Linked DNA regions of Homo sapiens: all the other regions are reported to be linked to region 1. Evidence: microRNA targets listed by miRTarBase, many of them from high-throughput screens and not tested one by one. Region 1 holds a microRNA gene; each other region holds the end of a gene's coding sequence.

Region 1 (5,075 bases):
TGCTGGACTGAGCCCTCCAGCAGTGCCCACTGTGACCTGCCGAAGTCCACTGCCTTTGCCCCAGCACAGAAGAGGCCCCTGCCACCCTAGGGACGGGCCAAGGGCTGGTCAGGCTGAAGTGCCCCTCCTAGCAGGGCCCCTTCCCACTCAGCCCGCGGCTGTGGGCACCACAGCTCTTGTGGGGCAGCCCACCTTAGAACCTGACTAGCGAGGGACCTCCGCTGCATCTCAGCAAAGCCCCTCCCAGGGTTTGATCGATTGAGCAGGACAGCCCTGCTCCTGGACAGGGACCCTGGTAAGAGCTCTCTCCTCAGGGAGGAAGTAGGGGTGGGGCTTTGGGGGTGCTTTCTCTGTACCCCCCAGCCCATGTCCCAAGTTGTGCCAAGGGAATGCCTCTTGCCACCCACCATCCTGCCCAGGCCCTGAGAGGCTGGAGGAGGCGTGTGTCTGGCCGGGCCCCCTCTCCGTAGGTGTACAGAGGACATGTAAATACACAGCGGTGGTGCCCAGGCAGCTCCTGCCCCCGCCTTCCCTCACTGAGGCAGGGCTAGCAGGGGTGGGAGGCAGTGGGGTTAACAGATCCCACAAGTCCTAACTTTTCAATTGTAAATGTTATTTTCTAAGCAGAGAGAAATGCATATATTTTAAATGGAATTTATTCTATCAACTGCCTGAGAGGACACAATGGGGGAGGGGCTTCGGACCACAGCAGGAGCCCCGACTGCCCACCTGAGGGCAGGGAGAGCCTGACCCCATTGGCCCAGGCCCTGGCTCTGTAACCATTAACCTCTTCCCCCAACTAACACCAATGAAAACACCATTCCACGTGACTGGGCTGTGTGTTTGCCTCTGTGACATGGGGACCCCTGACCCTAGGGGTCTCGCCTGAGCCAGACCTGAGGGACCCACCCGCGTAGATGGAGGAAGGTTTAGGCCTCCCTTTGCCAGCCACCGCCGGGGGTGGGCAGACCCTGGAGTGGCCTTACAGACCAGCCACAGGTATTTCTTAGCAATTGACACATTTTAATACAAACCAGTCTACATTCATTCCTAAAAGGCTCATTTCCAGTAAAAAATATACACCAGTAGAAACTTCTCCCAGAACTGGGGCAGAGGCTGAGGAGACCTGGGCCAGATTCCCCAAGACTGACAGGCAGCCAGCTTGAGCCAGGCACAGGAAGAGGCTCCAGGGCGAAGCGGGGGCCCTGCTCCATCTTCAGGTTCAGGCGGGAGACTCCCCCACAGAGGGAGGGAGGGGAGGCACTCGGGGCCACATCCAGGCAAGCACCACCCCCCTGCCCTCCACGGCAGCCTTGGGAGTTGGACGCGTCGGCCAAGGCTGCTGCTGTTGCTCCTCCAAAGAAGGTTGGCTTCAAGGCCGTGTCCAGGGACCCACGAGCAGAGGCACTGGGGGGCAAGGGATCTCCAAGGGGGCAAGGGATCCCTAAAGGGGGTAGCTCACAGGTGAGGGGGTTTAGGGCCCCTCTAGGGAGCGCCTGAGGCCATACATTCAAGAGTGTCCCTGGTGAGGCCCAGGGAAGAGCCAGGACTGGCCAAGGGCCCAGGCCGTCAGCTCCTCCACAGTGAGCCCCAGGGCTCAGGAAGACAGCGGGGTCTGACACGGGGAGCTGGGTTTCCAGTGCCACGGGTGCAGGAGCAAACCTGGAAACATTCATGATACAAACTCCCCTGTTCAGAAATGGGTCTGGCTTTAGCCCCAGGGACGGGGGCAACTACAGCCACCACAGCCAGTGGCTCAGAAGGGAGAGTTCATGCCCAGCTTAGTTTCAAACTGCAGCTTCTGTCGCTTCTGGTAGCGGACTCGGACCCTGGTGGGGCAGGAGATTAAAGTACAGGTTGGCAAAGATCCTTAGACCAGGGGCCGGGGCAGGACACCAGAGGAGGAGGGAGGGATGGGCAGCGGAAAGGTGGGGGAGTGTCGCCAAGGGAGTAACAGGTTTAGGGAACATGCCTGAGCCCAGAGGGAGGCGCCCTGCTGACAGCTCACCGAATCTCATGTAGCTTCACGATCTCATTGGTCACCACCACAAGGACCAGGGACAGGCAGCCCAGGAGCCATGTCAGCAGGGGCACGTCCTCCAGGCCAAAGTGGACGTGGCTGTCCCTGTGTGTCCACAGCTGCAGGTCCACAGCCGTCTGGACCACCTGACCCAGCAGCCTGCAGGAGGTGGCGGCCCCGTGTGAACCCGACACTGCTTGCTTCCTTCCCTGCTCTTCCCAGTACAACAGTTAGCTCAGGCAGGGTACAGTTAAACCACTGGCCCCGGTCCCGCCCTCCGATCCTAGCCCTGCAGAAGGCCCTCTCCTCCCCAGCCCACACTCCGCCCTCCATCCTAGCAATACTCACACCACAGGCACTGTCACGGCCCACCAGAGGTTGGTCAAGGGGCTCTTTCTCCACAGGGGCTTGGTGCGATGCACATGGGTGATGGAAATGAAGACTGGGGAAGGTGGGGCGATGTGGGGGTCAGACTTCCACAGTGGGGCTCCTCTCCCACCATCATCCACGCCCTCCCAGGGAGCCCTCTCACCAGTGTGCAGGACAATCAGGGCGGCCGTGAGCTTCTGAGCCGACAGCAGTCCATTGGCAAAGTCCTCAAACCAGGCTGGAGCCCTGTCGTCGTTGCTGCCAAAGTGAGGCATGGGCTCAGCCCCTCTAGGGCCGCAGGGAGGTAGGCTGGGGTGGGGAGGGAGGAAGCCTCGAGGCGAGGCAGGCGATGGGTGGATCTCTGGGGCTGGGACCCACCTGGGCAGCATGACGGAGGAGCAGTTGGTGAGGTTGCGGTCCCGGGAGCTGTCACAGAAGCTCTGCAGTGTGAAGCCAAAGCAGATGAGGCAGGAGCTGATGGTGAGGCTGAACTTGAGCAGGAAGCAGAGCAGGAAGTAGTGCTGGGTCTGCGGGAACAAGGCCAGTCACTCCTGGGGCGCACAGCCCCTCTGCCGGCTGCTCCTAGCTCTTCCACGTATTCAACGGGCTCTTAGTAAATGGTCAGGCCTGGGGGGATAGGGAGCTCAAGCCCCAGCAAGGGTCTTTCCCAGCTCTGTGCCACTACCTCCTCTTTGATCTGGGGGAAGACTAGGAACCAAGTGCCGGAGTTCTGCTGGAATCCCCCATCCAGAGCCTTCCAGATTAGCCCCTCTCTCCTCCCCCAATCCTCAGTCCCTTCCATGCTCACTTGCAAGGCTCACAGGGTCTGTTTTGCTTACCTTCTTGGGAATGGACTGGAGGTTTTTCCCCGTTGCCATAGACATGATGGAGCTATGGGGGGGCTTCCCCAGCAGAGAGATGCTGAAAAGCAGAGATCAGGTAGAGGGATGGTGACAATGACCCTCTGTCCCTCAATTCTCATAGAGGGAACCTCTAGGGAGTCTTGCGCGTGAGGTCGAGTCTGGTGAGGGGATGGAATAAAACAAAGGCTGGACGGCAGTGGCTCACACCTGTAATCCCAGCACTTTGGGAGGCTGAGATGGGCAGATCATTTGAGGTCAGGAGTTCAAAACCAGCCTCGCCAACATGGCAAAAACCCATCTCTACTAAAAATACAAAAATTAGCCAGGCATGATAGTGGGTGCCTGTAATCCCAGCTACTCAGGGGGCTGAGGCAGGAGAATCACTTGAGCCCGGGAGGCGGAGGTTGCAATGAGCAGAGATTGCACCATTGCACTCCAGCCTGGGTGACAGAGCGAGACTCCATCTCAAAAAAAAAAAAAAAAAAAAAAAAAAAGACAAAGGGGGTTCCCTCCATGCCTCCTGTACCAGAGGAGGTGAGACCTGAGCAGTTCCAGAACCTTGGGCTCCTGGGGCTGCACAGTGACATCCAGACACCTCCTGCTTAGGCATGGGGTGTGGGGAAGATACATGGCATCTCACCTGAGCAGAGGGTAGCAAAAGCAGGACAGCCACAGGATGTCGGTGGTACTCAGGAGTGGCGGCAGCTGGACCAGGCAAGAAAGGAACTAGACCAGGAAAGAAGCCAAGAGCCACAGTTCAATTCAGGCAAATAATAAGGGCATAGGAGCCCCCGAGCTCCCTTGCCCTGGGCCCAGATAGATGCTCACATCCTGCCAGAGGGAACAGGGGCCGGAGGGAATACTCTTCTGCCAATGAGGGTCAGCTCAAAAAGCCCAGGGGCTTCACAGAGGCTCTGGGGGGACCCCTTGACTGTACTGCTAACCCCAGCCTCCTTCCTCAGATTTTCAGCTGGCCCCTGAGTGAAGGGGTGAGTGGCACGGGGGCAATGCCTGTGCGGGCCCCACCTCACCTGGATGACCACAAGAGTCAGCTGGCACTGCAGCAGGAAGAGGAAGCACTTACGGATGCCATAGGTGGCATGCCGAGCCTAGGGACCAAGAGGGACAGATTATGGCCTGGGTCTACCTGGCCTCTCCCAGGCCCAACAGCTGACACACTTTAGCCAAGAGCCAGACGCCCAGGATGCTTCTACGAGGGGAGCAGAGGCGAATGTAACTGCCTGGGAGAGCCCGCTCGGAGGGCTGGGGAATGAGGTCCCCGGGTTCAAACAGGTCCTTTGCTGCTACTCCCACCCCAGGCGGGTCCTGTCCTGCGTCTCTCCTCCTTTGCCTGCCGAAGCACCCACCTGTTCGATAAGCCGGATGATGCTGATGGTCTCCTCCTGGCGAAAGGTCAGGGAACAGGGCAGGCTGTTGAGCTGCCCTGACAGCTGCAGGGGAGAAAGGCCATCCGAGGCCTGGGCCATGCTGATGCTGGTGGCGTAGCCAAAGGTCTCCCAGGAGCAACGGGATGGGTACAGGGGATCCAGGGCAATGCTGCTCAGGGTGGGGGACACACACACTTCAGCTGTATCTCCCACAGGACTGGGCACCCCACCCTCTTCTCCCACCATGCCCAGGTGCATTGGTCCCAGCCAGGGCGAGGTCGGCTATAGTACACACCCCCAGCCCCACGCAGGCCCATCTGATCCTCCGGTCTGGGAGGTAGAGGCTGGCCCGCAGGCTCCAGGGTCCCGCCCTGACCTGATGTCGCTCTGGAGGAAGAGGCAGCTGTTCCGCAGGTTGGCAGAGCTGCCCAGGCA
Region 2 (5,075 bases), not on the chromosome of region 1:
TTGAATGCAACAGTAGTAGTGTCACCAGAAGAAATAGAAGTGTACAGTTTAAGTAACATTAACATTCTGAGCATATTCTTACATCTATAATGAATTTACATAGGTTATTGGTTTTCAGCTCATCAGAAAAAGATCTAAATGTATTCTATTTGTCATTCTTAGTGAAATCTCTTGGCATTCTTGTATCTCATACAAAAACCTCCAAAAGAAACAGCAGGGCCTCCGTATATGATTCTAAGTATTGTGGATGTCAGTGACATTTGTGTCTCTTCACAATCCCTTCCCATTGTGCTTTTCACCCTGACCAGGCTCCTGAACAAACCCAGGTTACAGATTCCTCCATCAGCAACATAGTCTCTTCGATTCCTTTTTCCAAAATTAGAACCATTTCCCATGCCACTCATCTGGTTTCTTAGTCCATTTAACAGTCCTGCAATTCAGATAGAGCAGTTATGTCGTTTAGACAACAGCAGTATGAATGTTTTTTTGTCTCTAGTCCCTCTTGATGAAAGAATGAAATATGAAAGTACAGTTACACCATTGCTGATTAATTTTTTCATCTGAGTGCATTTGAGTTAGAGATAAATGAAAGCATTTTTAGGCTTATTGGAATGACTCATCGCTTTCTTCCACTTTTAACTGTATAATTCTGTTTTATTTCAATGCAGGTACAGCCTGACTATTTGGACTGGAAAAAATGATAACTATTCCGTTGAAGATTTACTTTACATTAGAGACCATTTTGACAAAAAACAAGTTTTCTATGACATCTTGGAACCACAAAACCATGAATTTAAACAAGCCATTGGAATCAAAGTTAATCTCTAAGAAGAAGATTCTCAATTATTTCCTGTGTTTTGGTTTCATAATCCTTCTCTCCATTGGTCTGAATTAATTACCATATAAATTATGGTTATTGATTGACGTTCCAAGTCATCTAATCAAGAAACGTTTATTGTATGCTTACTCTGTGGGCATATGTCCTTATAATAGTGCACTTACATAAAAGATTTGGAAAGAAGAGATTTATTTACACACGTGGCCTAGTCTAATAATAATTCAGGAAAATGATACTCTGCACCCCTTCATAAAAATAGTTTTGATAAACTAAAGATGATTGGCAGAATCCATATGTCATAAAACAGGTATAAATCACATGTGCTTGGCACTTGCATTACAGAGATTATGAAAAATATGGTACTCTTTTCCTTTTTCCTAGAAAACTGGTTATTTTAGAGATAACAAAAAAGGAAGAGGGCTTTTAAAATGTTTTTAATTTTCACAGGGGTCAGCAGCTGTCTCATATCAAGATCTATTAATCCATTTCCTGAAACTGTAGATTAAATTAGATAGATCTAGAATTTCCATGTGATTGAGAAGCATGCTAGTGGCTAAGTGTTTTTTTTATATTTCTTATTTCTATAGTATCTGATTTATAGTGGACAATATACTGTTGGAGAGCAGTTTTAGTCTTTGTTATGTATCATTTGTTTTCCAAGTTTCTTACTGCCACCACCTTCATTCAGGTCCTTGTTCTACTAGTAAAACTTTATGAACTACTTTTTTCACGGCTCATTCCTCACATTCTACTCAGAGATCTGAGTTTTTCTGCTAAACAAAACTTTCTTTTCTTTTCTTTTTTTATTTATAATAATAATAATTATTATTATTATTTTGAGATGGAGTCTGTCTCTCTCACCCAGGCTGGAGTGCAGTGGCGTGATCTTGGCTCACTGCAGGCTCTGCCTCCCAGGTTCATGCCATTCTCCTGCCTGAGCTTCCTGAGTAGCCGGGACTACAGGCGCCCCCCCACCACGCCCGGCTAATTTTTTATTTTTTTAGTAGAGACGGGGTTTCACTGTGTTAGCCAGGATGGTCTCTATCTCCTGACCACATAATCTGCCCTTCTCAGCCCCCAAAGTGCTGGGATTACAGGCGTGAGCCACCACGCCTGGCTTTTTTTTTTTTTTTTTTTTTTTTTTTTTGAGACAGAGTCTTGCTCTGTTGCCCAGGCTGGAGTGCAGTGGTGTAATCTTGGCTCACTGCAATCTCTGTCTCCCCAGTTCAAGTGATTCTCCTGTCTCAGCCTCCCAAGTAGCTGGGACTACAGGTGTGCGCCACCACACCCAGCTAATGTTTGTATTTTTAATAGAGATGGGGTTTCACCATGTTGGCCAGGCTTGTCTCAAACTCCTGACTTCAGGTGATCCACCCACTTCGGCCTCCCAAAGTGCTGGGATTGCAGGTGTGAGCCACCACACCCAGCCAAAACTTTCTTAAATACCTCTTTCTTTATGCCAAATCAAAAACCTTCAAGGGCTTAAACTCAATTTTACTCAGTTTTCCTCTTTCAAGACCCTTCATAATGCAGTCCCACCTAAAAGTCAGTTTGTTGTGCTCCAGCACGGTTCTTCATTTAAAAAATTTATTCAACATCAATGGTTTCTAGATCCTACTTTAACCATTAATCTTAACTATTTAGTTATTTCACTAATTGACACGTGCATGTTAGCTATGTCTCCTCAGCTAGACTGTAAATTCCTTTATGGCAAAGGTTCATGCTTAAGTATCTTTTACAGTGCCTGGCATAGTCCTGAGAAAAACATCCAGAAAAATATGTTGCTGCTTTGATTTATTAACAAGTAATTTACTAGTGAATGTCCTAAAAGATGTAATTTGCCTTTTGTCAATCAACCATTTTTCTCCCAGAGAATAACATAGTTCTATATAGAGAAAAGATCTTGGGTTTTGAATTCAGACAGATTTTCTTTACAGCCCCACCTCTATCCCTTACTAGCCATAGACTTTGGGAAATCTTTAATGCCATTGACTCCAGGCTCACTTGTCTATAAAGTGGAGGTGGGGGAATAAAATTTCTCTTGTAGGGTTGTTGTGAGGATTATGTGAGATTCATGTAGTAGAGATATCTAGCTCAATGACATAGTGAATGCTCAGCAAAGTTACTCTTCTTTTAGACTTATCCTGTGATCATGTCCATTATAGCTAGATAGCACTAAGAGATACAACATCAAACATTGTAGACATATAAATACTTAAAGACAATTATAGTATTTCCACTTGAAAATTCAGCTCTAGTCAAATGGAATGCTTCTTGTCAAATCATACCTAAAACTTTACTATCCATGGTTGTTTGCCAAAGACAAAAGGTGCAATTTCATTATAAAATTTCAACTGCTATAGAAAATAACTTTTTAAATTATAGTAAATTAATTTATAAATTTTCTACAAAGACCATGCATTACTAAAGACAGGTGAATTTATAAATAAACTGCCTTTTGTTGAAGTTCAAAGTAAAACTCACTTGTCCAGAATATTATTTTTACTACTTAATTGTCCTACCTTTGATAATTTTTTTAAAATATTAATATTATGGTAAAATTATATATTGAGAAATCTATAAGCCTAATATCACTTAGTTTTTTTTTTTTTTTTGAGACAGAGTCTAACTCCGTCACCCAGGCTGGAGTGCAGTGGTACAATCTTGGCTTACTGCAACCTCCACCTCCCAGGTTCAAGTGATTTTCATCCCTCAGCCTCCCAAGTAGCTGGGATTACAGGACTGTGCCATCACACCTGGCTAATTTTTGTATTTTTAGTAGACAGGGTTTTGCCATGTTGGCCAGGCTGGTCTGGATGGAACTCCTGGCCTCATGTGATCTGTCCGCTTTGGCCTCCCAAAGTGCGGGTATTACAGGCGTGAGCCACTGCATGCAGCCTCACTTAGATTAATATTTAAAGGTGTATTTTAAACTGTTCTCAGGAACAAAAACGCATAAGAGAATTATAAAATGTATTCTGTTGGAAAGTAAAATTTTAATAGCTATCCATATGGAAAAAAATAACCTTGATCCCTACCTCATGCCATATACGAATAATTTGAGATGGATCTTAGGCCAAAATGTGAAAGCTAAAACCTTAATGCATTTAGAAGAGAATAAGGGAGAATGTTTTCAGGACTTTGGGGTAGGCATAGGTTTCTTGTAACCCAGAAAACACTAGCCATAAAAGGAAACATTGATAAATAGACTTTATCAAAACTTAAAACTTCTCAGAAAAGACACCATTGACACATATCTGACAGAGGGTATATTACTCCTTTAAACTATAAGAAAAAAACCCAAAAAACTGACTAAAAATGGGCAAAAGACTTGAATAGATACTTCACACAAAAAAAATAATTCAGATGGCCAAAAGAATATGAAAAGGAACTCAACAGTATTCCTTATTCAGGAAAGACAAGTTTAAGCCACAATAAATGCCAGTACATACCCACCAGAGAGGTTAATATTATAAGGACTAAAAACACCTTTTAGGAAAAAAAGGAAAACAGTTTGGCAGTTTCTAATAAAGATAAGTATATCTCTACCTTAAGACCCAGCCACTCTATCTGTAGCCATATACTCAAGAGAAAAGAGCTCATGTATTTACATTAAAAGACTTGTAAAAGAATGTTCATAAAAACTTAATAGCCAAAAACTAGAAACAACCCCAATTTTCATCAGTAAGAGAATTTATAAATAATGGTAGACTCATACAATGAAATTACTACACAGCACTAAAACAGTTTGAACTGATGTAACAATAAAGGTTATTAACAACATCATGCAAAAAAAAAGGCACAAATGAATACATATTCTCTGGATCCATTTATATGAAGTTAAATAATAGTCAAAACTAATACATGGTGCTAGAAGTCAGAATAGTAGTAACCTATACGGTTCTGTCGGGTTTTGTCTGGGATGGAGCATGTTGGAACTTTTTTGGGTGTTGAAAATGTTCTCTATCTTGTTCCGGGAAATGGTTATTTTGATGTGTACATAGGCAAGGCAAAAAACTTATTGAGTTGTCACATTTAATATTTGTGCATTTTACTGTATGTAAATTATATATCCATTTTCAATATATTTTAAAGGCCTTGATGTACAGAAATGCAATAGAATACTATGCAGAAACTTTTTAAAATTTTTTATTTTTTTGATACAGCATCTCGCTCTGTTGCCCAGGCTGGAGTGCAGTGGAATGATCTCGGCTCACTGCAACTTCTACCTCCCAAG
Region 3 (5,075 bases), not on the chromosome of region 1:
CATTAAAGAGATACACATAAAGAAATGCTTTTACATGTTGGTAATACATCAAAGGTTGAAAGGAATGTGGAAACTCTGTGCTATGACACGGTGTGTTGATGAGCAAGGCCTCACTCTGTATCAGAATATCTCCCCCTCTGCCCTCCCTTGACCGTTGGCTCCCGCCTCCCTCCACCACATAGAGACATGCATCCTTTGCCATCCCTTGTTAAAAGTATGTGCGTGCACAGCTACCTACCCTTACAGTTAAGAGCAAATGCCCTTAAAAGCAAATGCCACTTCTTAGATATCTTTTGGCACTCCTGGTTCTGAGTACTTAATACGTTGCTTTGGGATGAAGGAAAGAACAGAATGCTCTGTATATGATTACCTTTTATCCTTTTGAAAACTTGAGTGGACTAATTCTTGCAGATAAATTTTAGCAATGGGCATTTAGTTGTAGAAGGTACCACAGATGAATATTTGGAATATTATGTTTCTAAAAGAGTACTGATTGTTTTCTACCTCCTTTTATTTACTTATTTTTTAAAATTTCAGATTGTAGCTGTCTGCAGAGAGGCAGCTCTTCTGGCTCTGGAAGAAGACATTCAAGCCAATCTCATCATGAAAAGACATTTCACTCAGGCCTTGAGCACTGTGACACCTAGAATTCCTGAGTCATTGAGACGTTTTTATGAAGATTATCAAGAGAAGAGTGGGCTGCATACACTCTGAGAAAATATATATATTCAAGATGCTGAAAATCCTTTCCAGAGAAAATTTGTTTCTTTTTAAAATTTTTTGAGAGTGTTAAAAAAAATTTTACTAGGCAAAATGTTTGAAGTATGTTCAGTAGAATTTAGGGGCTTTGGTTCTTACAGATTTTCAAGTCATGTAAGTACAGTGAAAATATCTCTGAGCATAAGTTTCAATCAGTTTTACCTGGAAATTTGTGGTGTGGTTTAAAAAACAAATGTTTAGCTTTTTCATTTGCGACCTAGTCTGTTCATCCCATGAAGCGATTTCTTTTTCCAGAATCTGTTTGAGTGTCTTTCTAAAATGCCAAACATGTTGGCATCAATTTTATACAGGGATATAAAAAAGTATATGTGGATAAATTTTTTGTAATCTTTAGGGATATAAAAAAGTGTATGTGGATAAATTTTTTGTAATCTTTATTTTTGAAGGCCAGCCAGTAAAATGGCCCAATGTGCCAGCCAGGCTTATGTGGCCTTGTTTTCAAATATACATATATGTGTTATCATTAAAATTCATATATGCATTTTTGTTTTAGCCTTCTTAATCTCTACCTATGGCCAAAAAAATTTTTTTTGAGAGATATTTTGTATAATACAATGCCCTTTGAAAGTGTAAGCCCACTCTAAGCCTAGATCAGTAGGCTTGGGTTTTTTTTGTTGTTGTTTTGTCTTTTTTTTTTTTTTTTGAGACAGAGTCTCACTCTGTCACCTAAGCTGGAGTGCAGTGGCACGATCTTGGCTCACTGCAACCTCCGCCTCCTGAGTTCAAGCAATTCTCCTGCCTCAACCTCCTGAGTAGCTGGGACTACAGGTGTGCACCACCACACGCAGCTAATTTTTATATTTTTAGTAGAGACAAGGTTTCACCATGTTAGCCAGGCCGGTCTCGAACTGCTGGCCTCAGGTGACCCACCCACCTGAGCCTCCCAAAGTGCTGGGATTACAGGCGTGAGCCACCATACCTGGAGAGGTTTTGTGTTTTTGTTTTTTTTTCATAAAATGCTTTTAATAAATCATATGAAGCATTCATGTTTTTACTTATACATATTTTCAGGGTACCAGTAAACTTTTTAGTTCAAAGATAGGCCAAATTGTACTTTTTTTTTTTTATGAGACAGAGTCTCGCTGCTCTGTCGCCCAGGCTAGAGTGCAGTGGCGTGATCTAGGCTCACTGCAAGCTCTGCCTCCTGGGTTTACTTACGCCATTCTCCCGCCTCAGCCTCCTGAGTAGCTGGGACTACAGGTGCCCACCACCATGCCTGGCTAATTTTTTTTTTTTTTTTTTTTTATTAGAGACAGGGTTTCACCGTGTTAGCCAGGATGATCTCGATCTCCTGACCTCGTGATCCGCCCGCCTCGGCCTCCCAAAGTGCTGGGATTACAGGCATGAGCTACTGCGCCCTGCCGCCAAATTGTAATCTTAAACATATTATGTTGCATTCTAAATATGTATATTTATGCTTCTTGTTATTTATCCTCAGGATTTCTTCACACTTTATTACTTCATAAATACTCTTGAAAAAGCTTTCAGAAAGTGATTCTCTGACTTCAGATCAGAAACTGGCAATGGGAAGAATGTGCACTTAAACTTGATCACTGTAGATCTTTGAAAATTCCCAGAAAGACAAATCAGACAAGAAATACCTGATTATCAAAATAATGGGCTATACAGTTTTGTGGTGGCATACATTCCTTGTTTGTTTGTTTAGAGATAGGATCTTGTTGTGTCACCCAGGCTGGAATGCAGTGGCACAGTCGTAGCTCACTGCACCTTCAAACTCCTGGAGCTCAAGTGATCCTCCTGACTCAGCCTCCTGAGTAGCTAGGACAACAGGTGCACACTGCCATGTCAGGCTAATTTTTTTTTTTAAACAGAGAGACAGAGTCTTGCTGTGTTGCCCAGGCTGGTCTCCAACTCCTGGCCTCAGGTGACCCTCCTGCCTCAGCTTCCCAAAGGGCTGAGATTACAGGTGTGAGCCACCATGCCCAGCCTGTGGTGACATATATTCTGAAGTCACATCTCAAATATTTAATCCTCAAATATATTTACATCCTCAAAAATATCAGATTTTCAAGACAACACTGGTTTACCAGTACATAAACCCACCTAGGGGACAAAGAATATTACCACTTAGAACTGTGTTGTCAAATACAATAACCACTAATTGTATCTGACCATTTTAATTAAATTAATTACAATTAAATAATATTTAAGAATTAGTTTATCAGACATATCAGCCACATTTCAAATGCTCAATAGCTACATGTGGCAAGGGTCTGCCACACTGGACAGAGTAGAAAACATTCCCATCATTCAGAAGGTTCTCTTGGACGCTGCAGATCTGGAAAACAAGACTTCCATATTGAAATAAATACAACCTCAAAACTTTTATGCTCTGTGTTCCCTTTAGTTGTTATCTACATAGAAAATTATGAAACAAGAGAGGAACTTACCTTCTTCCCTATTAAATATATGGCTAAGGGCACAAGAAAATAAGAGGAAAACTTATCCTTCAGGGCCTAAACAAGGAAATGAAAGAAATCTCATTCCCAATAGAATAAAAACCAGAAGCTTGAAATGACTCTGGTGCAGGAGGCTGGGTGGTGGGGAGGAGGGTAGCAGTCTCAATCAACAAGTTTAGATATTAATAGCCACTCAAAGCCTTCAGCCCATATAACATGAAGTGACAACTGAGCTCTGCACATAATGCTCAAGCTCTATAATAACCAACACTCTCAGCACAAGGGTAGACAAGAAAAGAAAAATCTCCTGCTGGCCAGGAAGACCACAAGGAGGCTTTCTGACTTGGCCTGTGCTTTTGATTTTTAAAACATTTTTTAAAAGAGGCCTCTCTGGGCTGGGCGCGGTGGCTCATGCCTGTAATCCCAGCACTTTGGGAGGCCGAGGCAGGCGGATCACGAGGTCAGAAGATCAAGACCATCCTGGCTAACACAGTGAAACCCCGTCTCTACTAAAAATTCAAAAAATTAGCCGGGAATGGTGGTGGGCGCCTGTAGTCCCAGTTACTCGGGAGGCTGAGGCAGGAGAATGGCGTAAACCCGGGAGACGGAGCTTGCAGTGAGCTGAGATTGCGCCACTGCACTCCAGCCTGGGTGACAGAGTGAGACTCCGTCTCAAAAAAAAAAAAAAAAAAACCTCTGAGAATTCTGACTATGAGCTTACCTGCCCATGGCTTTAGAATGATTTGAATTCACACTACCTTCAAATTCATGAAACCTCAAAACCTACAAATTAACCTAAAAACATGGAGCCAAGCTAAAAATGCCCTGGGGGTAACTAGCACTTGGACTAGTTACAGGAATGTAGCTTCGTCTCAGAGGATTCCAAAAGCTAATGCCTTGCTTACCAAGGGCTTGTAATCTCACAGGATGTGATGGGTGGGGCCTCAGATCTGCTGATGGGAGCATAAATTGGTACAACCACTTTGGAAGGCAACTGGCTATCTAGCAAAGTTGAAGACCCTACAATCTAACAGTTCTCCTAGGTGCATATCCCAGAGCAAGTCTCACATTGATGCAGTGAGATAGTGAATAGGAAAGTTCATAGCACCATTATTTTTAAGTAGTAAGAACCCGGAAACAATCTAAATATCCATCAGTAATAGATATATGTGATAGTCATACAATGGAATACTGTGGCAATAAAAAATAATTAGAGCTACATATGAAATAGGGATGAAACATGGATGAACAAAGAATGTTTTAGAGGAATATGATATTTAAAATTTGAAGCATGAAAAATATGTGTTTATGGGGGCATATATAGTGGAAGAATAAATGAATAGAAAAGAAAAGCACCAAATACTGGTGAGGAATTTCCTCAGGGGAGAAAAGTTGAGCTGCTTCAATTGTGTCAGTAATGTTTCATATCTTAGGGTGGGTGATGGGAATATAGGTGCTGATTTAATATAGTCTGTACTTTTTGTGTACCTAAATATTTCGTGATAATTTTTAAAAGATGGGCCTTAAACCAATACAGTCATATCATTTAACTCAATTCCATGAATTTACAATGCAATCCACAGTGCCCACAACCCCATGTTTCTGGAAAATCAGGAGTATTGGGTACAATGGAATAAAATGCAAGAAGGCAAATAAGAGATCAGGCTTTTAGGACCTAGGAAACAAATAAAGAGGAATTTGTTGCTGAAAGTAATGTGTAGCTGACACTCTCATTACCTGACACAATGGGAGACATTATGTCTGGGAATAAGACATCTATTTCCATAGCACTGTAGTCCTGCAAAGGAGTTGGAAGTTATGAATTTTTAAAGATTTTAGAACATTATATCTTTAGTCTCTCATAAGCCAATTATT
Region 4 (5,075 bases), not on the chromosome of region 1:
CTTTCACATATCTGACAATAAGACAAAAGTAGGAGGCTCTTGAGAGTTCATCTTGACTTTTATTACACACTAGACATATATGAACTAATCAGAGATGTGCATGATTCTCTGTACTCTTAAAATCACAGGAAATATAATTCCACCTCCCCCTTTTTTTCTGATATTGGAGTAGCATTTCAGATTTTGGAGATTAGCTTAGGGCAAAGTAAAAGTCATGGAAGGCAGTGTATAAATAACATTAATTATGAAGCTACTTTTCAGAAGCTAGTAGTAACTTGCTTAGTAATAACCACAAGGTTGTACAGCGTTCACAATGCTGGTATTAATCAGCTACATATTTTGAACATCTACTGTTACTGGATACCAAAGAAAGTGAGTTATTTAAGAATCTTCCATTCTTGTTATAAGCTTCCTATGATCCAGTAACTTCTCAAAGGCTTTGCAAAAAGCGTAAGTCCTTGCTTTTTGAGAATTTTTTTTTGTGCACCCAGGAAATGTAAATGCAACCATCACTGCTTCTTGTGCAGGTGTGTGCTTTAACAATCAGGGCTGCTTTTGGTATCAAGAGTATGAGCTATTAAGAGTTTCTAAAAATACTGACCTAACTAGTCAGTTGCCTCCACCTTATATACTATTCAGGCAAGTCTTCGGAAAGTATACTACTGTATTCCTAGTCCAAAATAAGGTAGGCATGAATATATTCAACCTTCTTTGCACATACACCAAGGAAGAATTTAAATTTCTGCCCTTGAGTAGTTTTGTGTTAGGCAGGAGGAAAAACATATTCAATTTTGAGGTAGGTAATCAACAGGAATGAGAAAAATACAAGACAGTCTAAGATCTAACCTTTGCCTACCTTTCTAGGCTTATGTCTTAATACTCCCGAAGTGGCACAAGCTAGGTTATTTCTAGTTCTTAACAGACTACTGTGCTTTTGCACAATGCTCTCAAGTTCAGCTTAAGCAGTGCTCCTCTGGAAGTTCACACCCTAACTGAACTGTCACTCTTCTTTATTTTCTTCTAGAATCCTGGGATTATCTGAATAATAAATGCCATCACATTGTACTTTTAATACATACTTCATCTCTTTCACCTAGTGCACTATGAATTACTACGAGGAAGAATCTGTGTGCCTATCTTCCTGTCTTCAGTGATGATATACTGAAAGAATGGTGTAGGAGTAGAAATATTCTATTTACCAGTGCTAACTCTTTTTCACAAAACCAGGCAGAGATCTGCTCATTTTTACTCTGTAAACTTGGAAAAGTTAATTTATTCAATCTCTATTTTGTCCTAACTAGACTGATCATCTTATTACTAAGATGAAGGAATCTATTGCAAGTTACACGTTACTATCATCCCCTGGTATGAAAGAGCGATTTTGAACCTGAACATATAAAAGCATTCAAGATAGTGTCTGGCACAGTAGAACAGGGATTAACAAGACACTGGACTTGATCCTCAAATTATTTAAGCCACAGAAGGGATTCAGACTCTGGCCTTTTGATTGACCACCTTTTAAGATTGCTTGAAAAGACAACGCCCTTCCTATTAGCACAGCTGAAGCCAATCCAGAACTAAACATCAGCACACAAAAAATACCAGGATAGATGGAATCAAAAGACTCTGAAGCCAAAAGGAGGCTAGGGAGAGCAACTGAACTTAGCAAGCTGAGGACTTCAGTGTCCATCATCCGATCCTGCCCTGTAACAACAGGTCTATATGATAGAGATATTCCATCTGAGCTGGAGGCCATTATCCTTAGCAAACTAACACAGAACAGAAAACCAAATACATGTTCTCATTTAGAAGTAGGAGCTAAATGATGAGAACTCAAGGACACAAAGAAAGGAACAACAGACACTGGGGCCTACTTGAGGGTGGAGGGTGGGAGGAGGGAGAAGAGCAGGGAAAATAACTACTGGGTACTAGGCTTAGCACCTGGGTGACAAAATAATCTGTACAACAAAACCACTTGACATGAGTTTACCTATATAACAACCTGCACATGTACCCCTGAACCTAAAAGTTAAAAAAATAAAAGGGATAGTCTATCTGATGCTTAAATTGATCTTTAATAACCTTCTGCATCCCACCACCCCACCAAAACCACAAGAGAAATATCTCAATATTCTGTGGGCTTAAAACCACCTACACTGCCCCTTGGGTTAGAGAACAGGATTCCGTGGTCCTCTTTGAAAAATATACATTAAAGAAAATGTTAATTGCTTTTATTCATACTGTGTCTCTCCCTGACTTCTCCAAAAGCTTGTGTTTCAAAAGGTCAGAATGGTTGTTGTTACAAATATGCTGCCTCCCACTCTGTTTAGCATCTATACAAAGCAAAACGTTTTGTATGTTTCCACAAATTTTCCCCCAAAATTATCTCTTCCTTTACTTTCCACCTACCTCCTCTGAGATGCCAAATTAAGAAATGTCTTAGAATATCTAGAATATTCTTCCTCTTTTCATATTCGATTTGTCTTAGCATATAAAAAATTAGTTGACATGGCTTTCGGAAAGTCCAGTTGGCAGCAGAGCTGGACAACAGATGGCCACCCAGAAATTAGAGCCAGAAAGGTGACTTACTCAGCATGCATACACTGACAAGAATCCTATTTTTGAGAAACCCTAAAAATCCTTGACCTGATGTAAAGCCCAAGAGGCAGTTTAGAGGAAGAACAATGATTATAACCTGATTCCCTATCTAAAGCAAAATATACCACTTTTAACTGCCATAGACATGCCAAAAATATAAAACCAAAACCAAACCAAAACAAACAAACAAAAAATCCCCAGATAACAAAATACAGAAAATCAAACCAAAACCAAAAAACACCCCCAAACAAAAAACCACCACAGGCAACACACAAGCTTAAGATGTTTCCTAGAATCCATTCCAAGTGGTTTAAATTAGTCTAAAATAAAAATAGGTGGCTTTCAGTTCCATACGTTGTTTCTGCAGAAATAACTACTAGCCTATTAATCTAGAAATAATTTTTTTTGTTTAAAAAAAGGGAGAGTTTCTTCATTTTATCTTTATGATGAATTAATAGCTGCAAACAATCTAATTAATACTATCTACAACAGGTAATTTTTAGCTAAGATTTAAGTTCCTCGTAGCTCTGAAATTTTAACTGAATTTTAGTTGAACCTTAAGAAATGTTAACCATGACCTTAAAATAACTGCTCTATTGTAAAATTTAGAAGTCACATTCCTAATATTCCTCTCGCCTAGACTAAAAATTGTTGAAGGTCTCCTTTCACTATCAAAGTTCAAAGATACTTGTGCCACAGTATACAAATCAGCAGATTTGAAAACTATTTATCACCTCCAAAGTAACAAAAGAGATTCCAGTTCAAGTTGACAAAACACAAACTGGATTTAAAGTGCTGTGTTAAAAAACAAAACAAAAATACAGTTCCTTTACGGCAATTAAAATAAATGTTTCATTTTTGAAGCCATGACACTAAAAAGAATGAAAAACACATATAGGATAATTATTTTATAATTGTTCTTTTCATTCTAAGAACGTTGTGTTTTTCAGAGAAAGACAGCTTTCCAGCAAAAATTCATGCACAAAATACATATACTTGACAAGATGTTTCAGAGCCTACTATGTCATTTGGCTAGTCTAAATCCACTAATGTTAACTATCAACATTTTCCCAATACTATTTTTAAGTTACATCTCATTTACCTTCGTCCTTAAGAACTGCATAAGCTTGTTTTAAATATTTTAAATACTTGTCATAAACTAGAGTTTGCTAAGAGTAGAGGTACTCTGGTTAATGATCAAAATGGTGTGCCCAGAGGAAAAGCAAGCACTATTAAATATTAATGCAATCCTTATCAACACAAATTGAGCCATTTTAATAAAAAAGCTAGTCCAAAAAAGGTTCTCATTCTATAAAGATTAAATCATTTCCAAATCACAGTGAAAGGAACTTGAGTAATTAACCAATTTTGTTTTCTACTATGTGCCTTAGAGATACCTCACTAAAATTTTGTATCTGATACAACAGAATAACATTTGCAGAATGTAATATTGTAGTGACAGTACTGAGGTTGATTGTTACAGACTATTAAATGGTTACATCTTAATTGTTTATACAGAACATTGGTCCAATAACATTAAAATAGAGAACAGCATCTGGAAATTTATCTCATTCAATGTTCGGAGATAAAAGAGTTAAACATCCTTTCCATTATTTTCTGCAGTCAGTCCTTGTTCACAATCAAATCTGATGGCAACTACATTCTGGCATTTTCCCCAGCTACTGTATGAAGAGGATGCTGAAGGCCATTACTATACAGCATACTGCAACATAAGGACTCTTCCGTTCACCTGTTGAAAAAAAGGAGATGTTCATCTTGATTAACTGAGTGGCTAACCTGGCTATGACAAGGTTATACTACCATAAGAATCAAGATAACATTCTTCCCTAGGAGGCCCGCACATTGGGGGTGGGGCAGTGACAAAAACTAGATGCAACATAAAAAACAAGTACAATACAGAATGGGCTAAACTATTAATATATCAATTTATTTCTAAGAGGATCTTCTTTTCATATATTTAGAAAACCTCGAAAGCATCATTTCTTTGTCACTGTGTAAACTCAGACACTAAAAAATACAATGCAGAATGTAGGACAGAGATCCAAGAGAAACGATCTCAACTCAATTGAGGCCAAAGAAATATTGTTTATTTTCTGTCTATAAAAAGAACAAAACTTCCATCCATAAAAAGACACAACAGTTTTCCTTACTGGTAGCAATTTGTGACACTTAAAGGTACAGGGAAGGGGGAGCATTCATGGATGAAAATAAAGAGAGGATGGTCAATAAAACTGCATTTAAAAAATGGACAAATTAAAATGCTTAATTAAAAAAATTAGAAAAACTATTTCTGAGATAGTATGCTTACTCTGGGTTAGAAAAGTAGAACTAAAACTAACCACTTCTGTATCAGTCAATTTTTCACATGCATTTAAGGAATGCTTGTATTTGGATGCTTTCCTTTGTACGAAGTAAATCTCAAACTGGCTTGTGAATTGTCTCGCAAACAGATAGAG
Region 5 (5,075 bases), not on the chromosome of region 1:
GTCCTCTGCAACTTCAAATCTCATCCCAGGGGTGAGGAAATTAAGATTTATAAAGTCTCCATTGAGGAACTGCTTCTTATTTTTTCCTCACAGATTTGGAATAATTTTCTTAAAATTATTCCATAGAGAAGGTTGTTCCTTGGCTAGGAAATAGCTACTAACTTTCCCTGCTGTTAGCTAACCCCAGTGTTATTCTCCATGTCTTTCCTGTATCTATGCTAGAGCAGCTGAATTGGAGCCTCTGGACTGTTAGTGATTTCTGCTCTTCCTTATTTCTTTCAATGATTGTAATAGATCAGCCTAGTATGTCATTTGTTTACTATCCACTATTATTTGTTATATAGAATTTGAGAAAATGTGGAATCAAGAGAGGCTATTTTTCAGAAAAACAAAGAAAAGATCATAACCAGCAAAATCAACAGCAATCTAGCCCAGGATACCTTCAACATGGGTGTATTGAGAACATGTCTATTTAGGCAAAACCAATAGAAAATGTAGGAGAGGGAAGTGGTTAAAAGGAAAAAGAATATATGTATGTATGTATGTATGTGTGTGTGTGTGTGTATATATATACATACATATATATATACACATACACATATATATTAGCCGAGAGAGCGAGAGGGGGAGAGAGAGAGAGAAGGAGGGAGGGAGAGGAGGTGAACACTGACAGTATAGGTAACATTTTATAAATTACTTGGTTAATCAGTCAATTACAATTAAAACTACAACTGCCAATAGTATACCTTAGCCTTCCTCTAAAAATTTGGGCTTGATTTCTCTTTTATGTTTCAAAGCTAAGAGACTTAACAGAAAGTTAGACTAATAAAAGTTTAAATTAATGTATATCTTGAATGCTCCTAGATGTAGCATCTAACCTTATACCTGGTAAGCTTGTATAGTTTGTAACTCAGAGATAAAAACAATATCAAAAGCAAATGGAAGCTGGGCATGGTGGCTCACGCCTGTAATCCTAGCACTTTGGGAGGCCTGGGGGGCTGGATCACTTGAAGTCTGGAGTTTGAAATCAGCCTGGCCAACATGGTGAAACCCTGTCTCTACTAAAAACACAAAAAAATTAGCCGGGTGTGGTGGCGGGCACCTGTAATCCCAGCTACTTGGGAGGCTGAGGCAGGAGAATTGCTTGAACCCGGGAGGCGGAGGTTGTAGTGAGCTGAGATTGTGCTGCTCTGCAGCCTGGGCAACATAGCAAGGCTCCGTCTCAAAAAAAAAAAAAAAGAAACCAAAAAAAAAAAAAAAACAGCAAATGGATTAAAATTGTTAGTATACTATTTTGTAATTATTTTCAAAGAAATAAATAGGGAAGAAGTAACTTCTCTGGGGCATGCAAATGACAAAGAAAATAGTTTTCTATTTAGGTTGTGTGTATATATTGTATGTGTTGGTTTCTCTACTCTTTATGAGATACTCATTAATCTGAGAAACCTTCCGAGTATTCTTCATGATAAAATAAAAAAATATATTTTACAATAATTACATTGAAAAAAATCCAAGAAGAAAAGTTATGGATGGAAGCACTTACTTTTAGCCATCACTCAATTTCTTAAATTTTTTCTCTCTTTCACTTAAAGATCTGCCAAATTGTGTTCCTTTTATTACCTTAAATAACTGTCAAGAAAACAAGGTTCTATGAACCAGGACAACAGTGTGGCAGAAACAGTAGTAGAAAGGTTATTTCCAACCATTTAAAACAACTATAACATCATTTCACATTCAACTGACAACCGCAGCTTAAACTTGAGAATGGACAAGGGAATAATAATATACATTTTTCTTTTTCATTATTTCGTCTTTATCTTATGCATCAGTATTCTTACGAAGGACCTTTTTTTCTTCCATTCGAGACTGTGTGCTTTATGAACTGAACAGATGTTGCCTTTCATGTGATTAAACAATAATTTTTTCCTGCTCATACTTCTTAACCAATTCCTACCTGCCTCTCATCATGAATCATTGAAGATAATTCTCCAGTCATGCATTTAAAAAAATCTACTTGAAAGAAAAGGTCAAAGAGAATTTTTGAATTGACCACTTAATTTAAAATATGTTGCCATCAATTAGCCAGTGCTATCTACTTTTCTCCTAAGAACAGAAAGAAATGACTCCAATGATTTTACTTTCTTTGCTTGGCTTAATATCCGTGGATCTTGCTATCTTCTCTTGAGAAGAACTTGGCCTTTCATTCTAATGACTCACAAAAGAAAAGGCAATGACACCTGGGGCACATATGTTTTTCTAAGTCACTTGAAAATCTTTCACTTGGGAAAAAGCTGTATAAAAAATCTGGGCCTGGTCAACTTAATATAGATATTTTAAAACAGTAGAACTAATGGCAATAGAACACCTTTTATTTTGGGGAGGAGATGGAAAGTTTAAAGATGTAAGAAGTAATGCTTGATTTTTTTAGATTTTACTGAATATATAGCAGTATCCTTATTGTTTTCAGGGAAACTAGGAAGAATTGGAGAATGTGTAATAAAACTGCACGATTTGACAGATTTAGACAGCTGGCTCCCTCACAAGAAGTTCACATTTTGTTAATGTCACCCACGTTGAATAAGGGACAATTAGATGGTAAGGTCCATTTACAAAAATGGTTGTCAGGACATTTTTTTTTAATTGTAAAACTTTCTGTGATGGAATTCAGTAAAAGGGCTATGAAGAGAAAGCAATGGAGACAAAAGATTGCTATTAACCTACAGATGCAGGCTACTGCATGGTTCATTGCAAGATTTGTCACACTGTTGGGCCAATGAAGTGTTAGTGTGACTAGAAGGGACCACCCCTTTTCTGGGGTAAGAGGGCAATTTGGTCTCCATGCTCATTTAATCCTGAGACTTCTTTGAATAGACTGTCAATTGAATCTAAATTGTGCAAAATTATGCATGCACTTTTTAATGCAGGCTATTGTTCACTAAGCACTGAACCAAGATTTCTCAACCCATTTCCATTTGGCATGAGGTCACTTGAAACTTAAGTAATCATATATGGAAGACAAGAGCAGTGTACTTAACCAATCTTTCTACATTGTGGCTTCTATATAAATGCTTACTGGGCTTTAATTGCAAATCTCTCACCTTAAAACAATAGAGAAATACTAGCTACAATATATTTTTTAAATTGAGGCTTGTATTCCTAAAGGTAAGGAGAAGGTTTAGAAAGTCAGCTGGCGCTGCATAATCTATACTGCTCTACAATTTAGATTCTAGAGGAATGGATGTTTACAGAAGAAGGACAGCCATAGTGGGTGTGCACTTGTCATGAGTAGACGTGTTTTTTCACTAGTGCAAAGAGGCCTTATATTTTGTTAAAATCCAAACGTGGAGAGCTGGCTTTGAAAACCATGAAGAAAAATATCTACTAGACTTTTTGCAGTTTTAAGTCAGAACATGTCATCTCTGTAAAACCCTGAACAGAACATTTACAGAAAATTTATTGATACATTAGCCAAAGAGTATTTTCATTGAGTTCTGAAGGAACACGTACATTTAAAGTCATATTTGGCAAGAATTATTATGTTAAAAATTTGTACAGGTGACAGCTTACATAGCCAAGATTTTTAAAAACAAGTGAGCTCTTCTCCAGTGAGGTTCGATTCAGTGGAAATCTGCAACATTCTAATAACATAGACTCTGACAGTCTTGCTATGGTGAAAAGCACTTTACAAATGTTTAATGCTGGAATTTTATAAGGATTGGCTGTTTTCTTGCTTTTTCATCCGTCGTTAATGATTACATGTTGGCACAAGGATACCTTGCTAGATTAGATCCACAGCACATTAAAGACTGTTTGCTTTCTCACTCCCCTTCTTTCCAATTAAGTTGGTGAAAAATGTAACTTTAGTGTTTTACAGGACAGGGTAAAGGTGTTTCATCTAGGTGATGTCTATATTATAAAAATAAAATAAAATATATAAATATGTAACACAAACCCAGTGCCTATTGTTAAATAAAATATACAATAAAAGCAGACCTTTTAGGAAGATTGATTTTAAAATATGCTATTATGATTTAATTATAAAACACTTGAAAACAATCTTGAGATTAAGATGAAATAACCAGATTTCTCAGCCAATAAAAAGGTAAGTGTGTAGCATTCTGTAACTGGATACACTGACAAAAATGAAGATTACAATTTTATATCAAGTTGCTCACTTAGAAATTCATCAGGGAGTTCTGAAACATTCTCTCCTAGTATAGTACTTTAATATAAAAATATTGCCTTTTTTTTAATTAGATCCATCGGATTGCACAGTACTGTTTCAAAACTCTATTAAAGTTGACTTTAGTGATTACAGACAGAAAATTCCTGGGAAGTCAAATAATCTCTTCTAGTAACATAAAAAATCCATTATCAATTTACAATGGAATTTCTGTGTAAATTACTTTGCATAAGGAAGTATATATTTTAAAAAATCATCTGTTATGCAACAACGCATATAGGGGTTATGAGTATGTGTATGTGCATATGTGAACAAACATGCTGACATACACACAGAGGATCTGCACATTTCTGGAAATTATTTTTAAATTAATAAAAGAGAATGAAATCACAGGAGTGTGTAGCAGGATAACAGTCTTTTTTTTTTAATGACAGGATAAAAAATAAATGCCCATTGGAATAGAATATTCAAACAGTCCCAGAAACTATACAATGTAACTTGTTAGATCCAGCAAGTAAGATGTCATGTCAATGATCTGATCAAGAATACCTGCCCTGGTCACTCTGCGGATGTTTCTGTCCACTTGTTCACATTGAGGACCAAGATATCCTTTTTTACAGAGGCACTTGTTCGGTCTAACACAGACACCTCCATGACGACATGCTGGCTCACATTTTGCTGGGAGAGAAAAAGAGCAAGAACATCACACTCTCATTCTGTATGTCAGAAACAGGACTGAGCATGAGACCAACAAATATTTGCTGAATAAGGGAAGCGAGGGAAAAAAGGAGGGAGATAGTTACAAAATGATCTGAAAGATAAATATGCAAGTAGGAAACAGGCTTTTACACCCATAGTTATTTGGAGACCTGAACTCAGCAGAGAATGAGAG
Region 6 (5,075 bases), not on the chromosome of region 1:
ACCTTTCAACGGCATTCACTTACCCTTTGTGAATTAAGACACAGGCACGATTCACAAGGTCTGCTTCCCAGAAATTCTATTGCTGTGCTCTGTTACCAGAAATGATATGGGGGCTGAAATCCAAAGCAAAAGAAACCAAAGGGCGGGTAATGCCGACTGGTATTGGAAAGTGTGTGTGTGTGTATATATATATACATATATATACACACACACACACTTTTTTTTTTTTTTGAGACTGGGTCTCACTCTGTCGCCTCAACTGGAGTACAGTGGTGTGATCTCAGTTCACTGCAACCTCTGCCTCCCAGGTTCATACAATTCTCCCACCTCAGCCTCCTGAGTAGCTGGGACTACAGGAACCCACCACCACACCTGGCTATTTTTTTTTTTTTTTTTTTTTTTGTATTTTTTGGTAGAGACGGGATTTCACTATGTTGGCCAGGCTGGTCTCGAACTCCCGACCGCAAGTGATCCACCCGCCTTGGCCTCCCAAAGTGCTGGGATTACAAGCTTGAGCCACTGCACCCAGCCTGGAAAGTATATTTATGAAAGGTTTGCACTCCACAAAAGCATCTTTGCTAGGGTGTCAAGGAAGAGATCACTAAACCAACCCCAACACATCCATACAATTCCAGCAATCTAGAGAGGGCTGGTCCTTTTCCTTTTCTGGATTATTTTCTGTTCTCAGTAAAACAAGTATTTACTGTGATACTGAAACACTGGGAAATTAACACTGATTAAGATATTTTAAACACTGAGTCTTAATTATAACAGAACCAGTTTTCATCAGAATGCTTTTACGTCACATTCAGTGAAGTGTTACGCTAATATATTCTACAGCCCTGAAGATAGAAAAAAGGTTTCTCTCCAGGTATGAGATATGGTACAAAAATACATTTTTCCACATACAAAAGAGAGAAAAAAACAAAGACATGTGGCGGGTGGCGAGGGGAGGCCCAATCCCAACACCCTACAAGGTTCCATGGAATGGAGAAGGAACAAAAAAATCCCCAATTATTTTGGGGTAAGATGTGCCCCAGAAAAGGTGAAATCTATGCAATAAAACCCAGGTTTTCTTCAAATCTAGCATCTAGGATTTCTATCAGAGTTTCAAATAATCAGAATTTCTATCAGAATTTCTACCCTGAGGTGACACCTACTAACTGTAGGTTCTTTCATTAAAAATGAAGACATCTTTCACCAGAATGTATCAAGCTATAAAACTGGCTTCAGAGCCTACACTTAGCCAGAGTGGAAAAAAAAAATAGTGCATATTTTCGACAGCAATTTTGAATTGATGCTTGAGGTCTCAATCCACCAGCACCCAGATATCATGTTACCTCCCTCAGTTGAATACAAGTTAAAATGATGATCTTATCGAGATCTCAATAGAGCACAGTGCCCTTCATGTTTCGGGTAAGAGGGTGGGAGGAGGAATGAAGCGGGTATTACACCCAGCCCAGTGACAGCTTAAGCCTTAACATGCGGGCATCTTACAATGACCATAAACAAGGGAGGGGCCAAGGCAGGGCTGGCGATCATTAGCTTTGCGCACAGAATGCCATGTTTTCCCCTGGCCAACATAAGCAAAGCTGTTTTAGTACCTAAACGTGGTATAGCCAAATGCACAAAAGGAAAGAAGATAGAGATGACCTCCCGAGTTATTTATACCTTGTGCTAAAATAGATTCATCTACAAGTATCTAAATGACAAAACTAGAATGATTTCAACCCAGTAATCCTGTGTTCCAATGTGCATGGATAAAGATTTGATCTAGGCCCAGCGCGGTGGCTCACGCCTGTAATCCCAGCACTTTGGGAGGCCGAGGCGGGCGGATCACGAGGTCAGGAGATCGAGACCATCCTGGCTAACACGGTGAAACCCCGTCTCTACTAAAAATATAAAAAATTAGCCGGGCATGATGGTGGGCGCCTGTAGTCCCGGCTACTTGGGAGGCTGAGGTAGGAGAATGGCGTGAACCCAGGAGGCGGAGCTTGCAGTGAGCCGAGATGGTGCCACTGCACTCCAGCCTGGTTGACAGTGAGACTCCATCTCAAAAAAAAAAAGATTCGATCCAGCAAATAATTTTTTTTGAGACGGAGTCTCACTCTGTTGCTGAGGCTAGAGTGTGGTGGTATGATCTCAGCTGACTGCAACCTCCGCCTCCCATGTTCAAGCGATTCTCCAGCCTCAGCCTCCCAAGTAGCTGGGATCACAGGCGCCCACCACCAGGCCTGGCTAATTTTTGTATTTTTAGTAGAGACGGGGTTTCACTCTGTTGGCCGGGCTGGTCTCAAACTCCTGACCTCAGGTGATCCACCTGCCTTGGCCTCCCAAAGTGTTGGGATTATAGGGGTGAGCCACCCTGCCCAGCCTGCTCCAGCAAATCTTAAATATCCATGCACACTGAATAAACATGCACCTGAAACAGGTGCACGTTTCAGGAAGTGAATGGAACTCTCCAGGAGAGTTTGGGTCCCATCATGTGTACCTTAGAAACAGAAGTCTCAAAAGTCTCAACAACATCCACAAAAACATCTGCATCTGTTTTCCAGATACTTGCAACCAAAAATAAAACTTCACAGGAACACTACACAAGAAGTGGTAGACAGCTAAATCTTCTCCAAACTGAGACCTGGACCATAAGGTCTTGGTTGTAGCAGGTCTGGCAGGGGTTATCTATAAACCTGCACGCAGGGCACTGTGAGCGGGTTGCCAGGGTACATCTGTGGCCAGGTAAGGGCCACAGAGACAGTCGTGATCCCCAGCAGCTTCAAAGCTGCAAAATGCTGGGCTTTTTTTTTTTTTTTTAAGATGAAGTCTTGCTCTGTTGCCTAGGCTGGAGTGCAGTGGCGTGATCTCGGCTCACCGCAACCTCCACCTCCCAGGTTCAAGCAATTCTCCTGCCTCAGCCTCCTGAGTAGCTGGACTACAGGCACCCACCACCATGCCTGACTAATTTTTGTATTTTTAGTAGAGACGGGGGTTTCACCATGTTGGCCAGGCTGGTCTTGAACTCCTGACCTCAGGTGATCCATACTCCTCGGCCTCCCAAAGCGCTGGGATTACAGGCATCAGCCACTGCGCCTGGCCTAGGGCTTTCTTTTTTAAAAAACAAGTCCTAACAAAAGGGGGTTTCTACCAGCCCCTGAGCCACACCTTCTGAAACTCCCTTGCCCAGGATCCCCACAGCTGTCCACCTCGCAAGTCCCACTCTCTGCCCACAGAGACTGCCTAAAAGGAGGACACAACAGATTTCAGATAAAAAGCACCTGTGTATCGTAAATATTTCAGGAAAAAGAATTCAGATCTTTTCAAAGGCTTGCTTATTGCTGCTAATTGTTCCTGAGGATCTTTCTAAGCAGCAATATACTTGAGAATATTAGCTGCTACTGTTTGTTTTCCCTCTAAGGTCCTGAGGAAATCAAAAGAAAAAAAAAAAAACCCTCAAGGGTATAGCTTTTGTATATAGCCCTAGTGAGCAAACTGCAAATTGGGACATGCAGTAGATTCTGGAGCAATCTCCAATCCTTACCAGGTACTTCCTGGCATCAAATCCCCAGGACATTTCTTGGCCCCTCCTTGCATTTTCCGTTTCAAAATGTTGAGGTTAAAATACATCGAAGCACAGAGGGAAGAAAATCTCAGGTCTTCTAGAAATGGCGATGTCTTCATTTAAAAATAGGACTGATGGGGGCTTGGCAGGGGTCTCTAGGATCCAAAAGAGGTTGAGTTGCATCCTGCAGCCCAACTGTCCACATTTAGAAGTGACAACATTCATGAACTAAGTCAACATCCACCAAAAATAACATGAAATAAAGCTCACAGTTTGGGAACATGAAAATAACGCACACAGACCTCACCCACCAATCCCTAAGCTGTGAAAACAAACGCTCGCATTTAAACTTTTCTCAAATGTCAAATTAGCATATTCTTCCCCTCCATGTAAAGTTTTAATAAACTTGACTCAATCTGCCTTTATTAAAAAACCTTACAAAAGATGTATTTAAATGCTTGAAAAAATTAACTTTATGCTCTATGCACAGATAAATTTCTCTTACTGTACAACTAAATATGGTTATATCCTTTGTTTAAAAAATATTTTTTCCCCCACTAATTACACTTCGTGTGTAGTTCCACGTCAATGATCTTTCCGCTCTTCTGGGAATGTGTCCTAAGAGCTGCCGGGTGGGTGGAAATAGCCCTACACAGCGCCACTTTCTTGCTCAGTCGTGTTTATTAAGATTGTTTGGGGTTTGGGGTTTTTTTCCTCCGTTTTCGTTTTCTGAGACAGCGTGCTGGTAACTGTGGACCCGCCCGGCCGGCTGACCTTCACTTGTCCTTGGAGCGGTCCAGGCTCTCGAGCACCCGGTTGAGACGGATGTTGAGCAGTCTGACCTGCTTCTCCAGGTGCTCCAGCTTCTCCTCCACGCTGGGGTTGCTGGGGTTGCTGGGGCCGCTGGGACTGCTTCGCCAGTAGAAGCCCATGGGCCCGGTCATGAAGTAGACGGCCACCACGAAGCACAGCGGCAGCACCGCGTTCTCCGGCTCGCCCTCGTACTTGTGCAGGATGTACACGCAGGACATGGAAAACAGGACGACCCGCACGATCCAGAAGAAGCGGCCGAACACCACGTGCAGGACGCTGAAAGTGAAGCCCAGGGTCAGGGACAAGAACCAGTAGGCCAGGAGGACGACGCCGACCAGCAGGAGCGCGCGGGCCGGGCTGCTGGACACCGAGGCTGGGCTGAAATACTGGGACAGGTTGGAGACTGCGGGACAGAAAAGAGGAACAGGGCTCGTTACGCAGGGGCCAGGGGTTTCTTAACAAGCTAGAATTGGATAGTTGAGCTGGCCTGTGGGGCTTAAAAGGCCTTTGCAACAACCAAAGGAACTCAAGGAAGTTCCTCTGTGAATAGTCACACTTTGCTCCATGAGGACACACAGGGAAGCCTCTTTTTTTTGAGATGGAGTCTTGCTCTGTTGCCCAGGCTGGAGTGCAATGGTGTGATCTCGGCTCACCACAACCTCCGCCTCCTGGGTTCAAGCAATTCTCCTGTCTCAGCCTCCGGGGT

Evidence for each region. Region 1 holds the annotated microRNA hsa-miR-6785-5p (UGGGAGGGCGUGGAUGAUGGUG, at 2,517-2,538, opposite strand). A microRNA usually pairs through its seed, bases 2 to 8, with sites in the 3' UTR of a target mRNA and lowers its output. Matches are read on the target gene's strand: a 7mer-m8 pairs with bases 2 to 8, a 7mer-A1 pairs with bases 2 to 7 and ends in A, and an 8mer does both.
Region 2: miRTarBase lists FAM151B as a target of hsa-miR-6785-5p. The part of its 3' UTR that is shown has no 7-base or 8-base seed match.
Region 3: miRTarBase lists AFG2A as a target of hsa-miR-6785-5p. Seed matches in the 3' UTR shown: 7mer-A1 at 1,660-1,666 and 7mer-A1 at 2,098-2,104.
Region 4: the mRNA of TMEM167A is a reported target of hsa-miR-6785-5p. Seed matches in the 3' UTR shown: 7mer-A1 at 1,889-1,895.
Region 5: the mRNA of HHIP is a reported target of hsa-miR-6785-5p. Seed matches in the 3' UTR shown: 7mer-A1 at 1,120-1,126, 7mer-A1 at 983-989 and 7mer-m8 at 646-652.
Region 6: miRTarBase lists BRI3BP as a target of hsa-miR-6785-5p. Seed matches in the 3' UTR shown: 7mer-A1 at 1,950-1,956, 7mer-A1 at 1,816-1,822, 7mer-m8 at 1,513-1,519 and 7mer-A1 at 1,426-1,432.

What each region holds. Positions count from the first base shown.
Region 1 is chr17:75,496,016-75,501,090 of GRCh38, reverse strand. MIR6785 (microRNA 6785) reads right to left here and starts at 2,543; the gene lies at 2,463-2,543. TMEM94 (transmembrane protein 94) reads right to left here. Exons shown (of 32, transcript NM_014738.6): 23 at 5,017-5,075; 24 at 4,620-4,809; 25 at 4,284-4,361; 26 at 3,893-3,978; 27 at 3,229-3,310; 28 at 2,768-2,916; 29 at 2,553-2,647; 30 at 2,369-2,462; 31 at 2,009-2,179; 32 at 639-1,829. The coding sequence ends at 1,757. CASKIN2 (CASK interacting protein 2) reads left to right here. Exons shown (of 20, transcript NM_020753.5): 20 at 1-830. The coding sequence ends at 11.
Region 2 is chr5:80,541,005-80,546,079 of GRCh38, forward strand. FAM151B (family with sequence similarity 151 member B) reads left to right here. Exons shown (of 6, transcript NM_205548.3): 6 at 669-1,559. The coding sequence ends at 828. Among named protein-coding and RNA genes, the nearest start is that of ANKRD34B, 27 kb to the right of the region's middle.
Region 3 is chr4:123,313,351-123,318,425 of GRCh38, forward strand. AFG2A (AAA ATPase AFG2A) reads left to right here. Exons shown (of 16, transcript NM_145207.3): 16 at 538-5,075. The coding sequence ends at 714. Among named protein-coding and RNA genes, the nearest start is that of SPRY1, 81 kb to the right of the region's middle.
Region 4 is chr5:83,052,807-83,057,881 of GRCh38, forward strand. TMEM167A (transmembrane protein 167A) reads right to left here. Exons shown (of 4, transcript NM_174909.5): 4 at 40-4,348. The coding sequence ends at 4,278. Among named protein-coding and RNA genes, the nearest start is that of TMEM167A, 22 kb to the right of the region's middle.
Region 5 is chr4:144,737,550-144,742,624 of GRCh38, reverse strand. HHIP (hedgehog interacting protein) reads right to left here. Exons shown (of 13, transcript NM_022475.3): 13 at 1-4,861. The coding sequence ends at 4,668. All of the region lies in intron 1 of LOC124900791 (a long non-coding RNA gene), which reads left to right. Among named protein-coding and RNA genes, the nearest start is that of HHIP, 94 kb to the right of the region's middle.
Region 6 is chr12:125,024,688-125,029,762 of GRCh38, reverse strand. It overlaps BRI3BP (BRI3 binding protein), which reads right to left. Exons shown (of 3, transcript NM_080626.6): 3 at 1-4,772. The coding sequence ends at 4,333. It overlaps THRIL (TNF and HNRNPL related immunoregulatory long non-coding RNA), which reads left to right and starts at 2,340. Exons shown (of 1, transcript NR_110375.1): 1 at 2,340-4,320.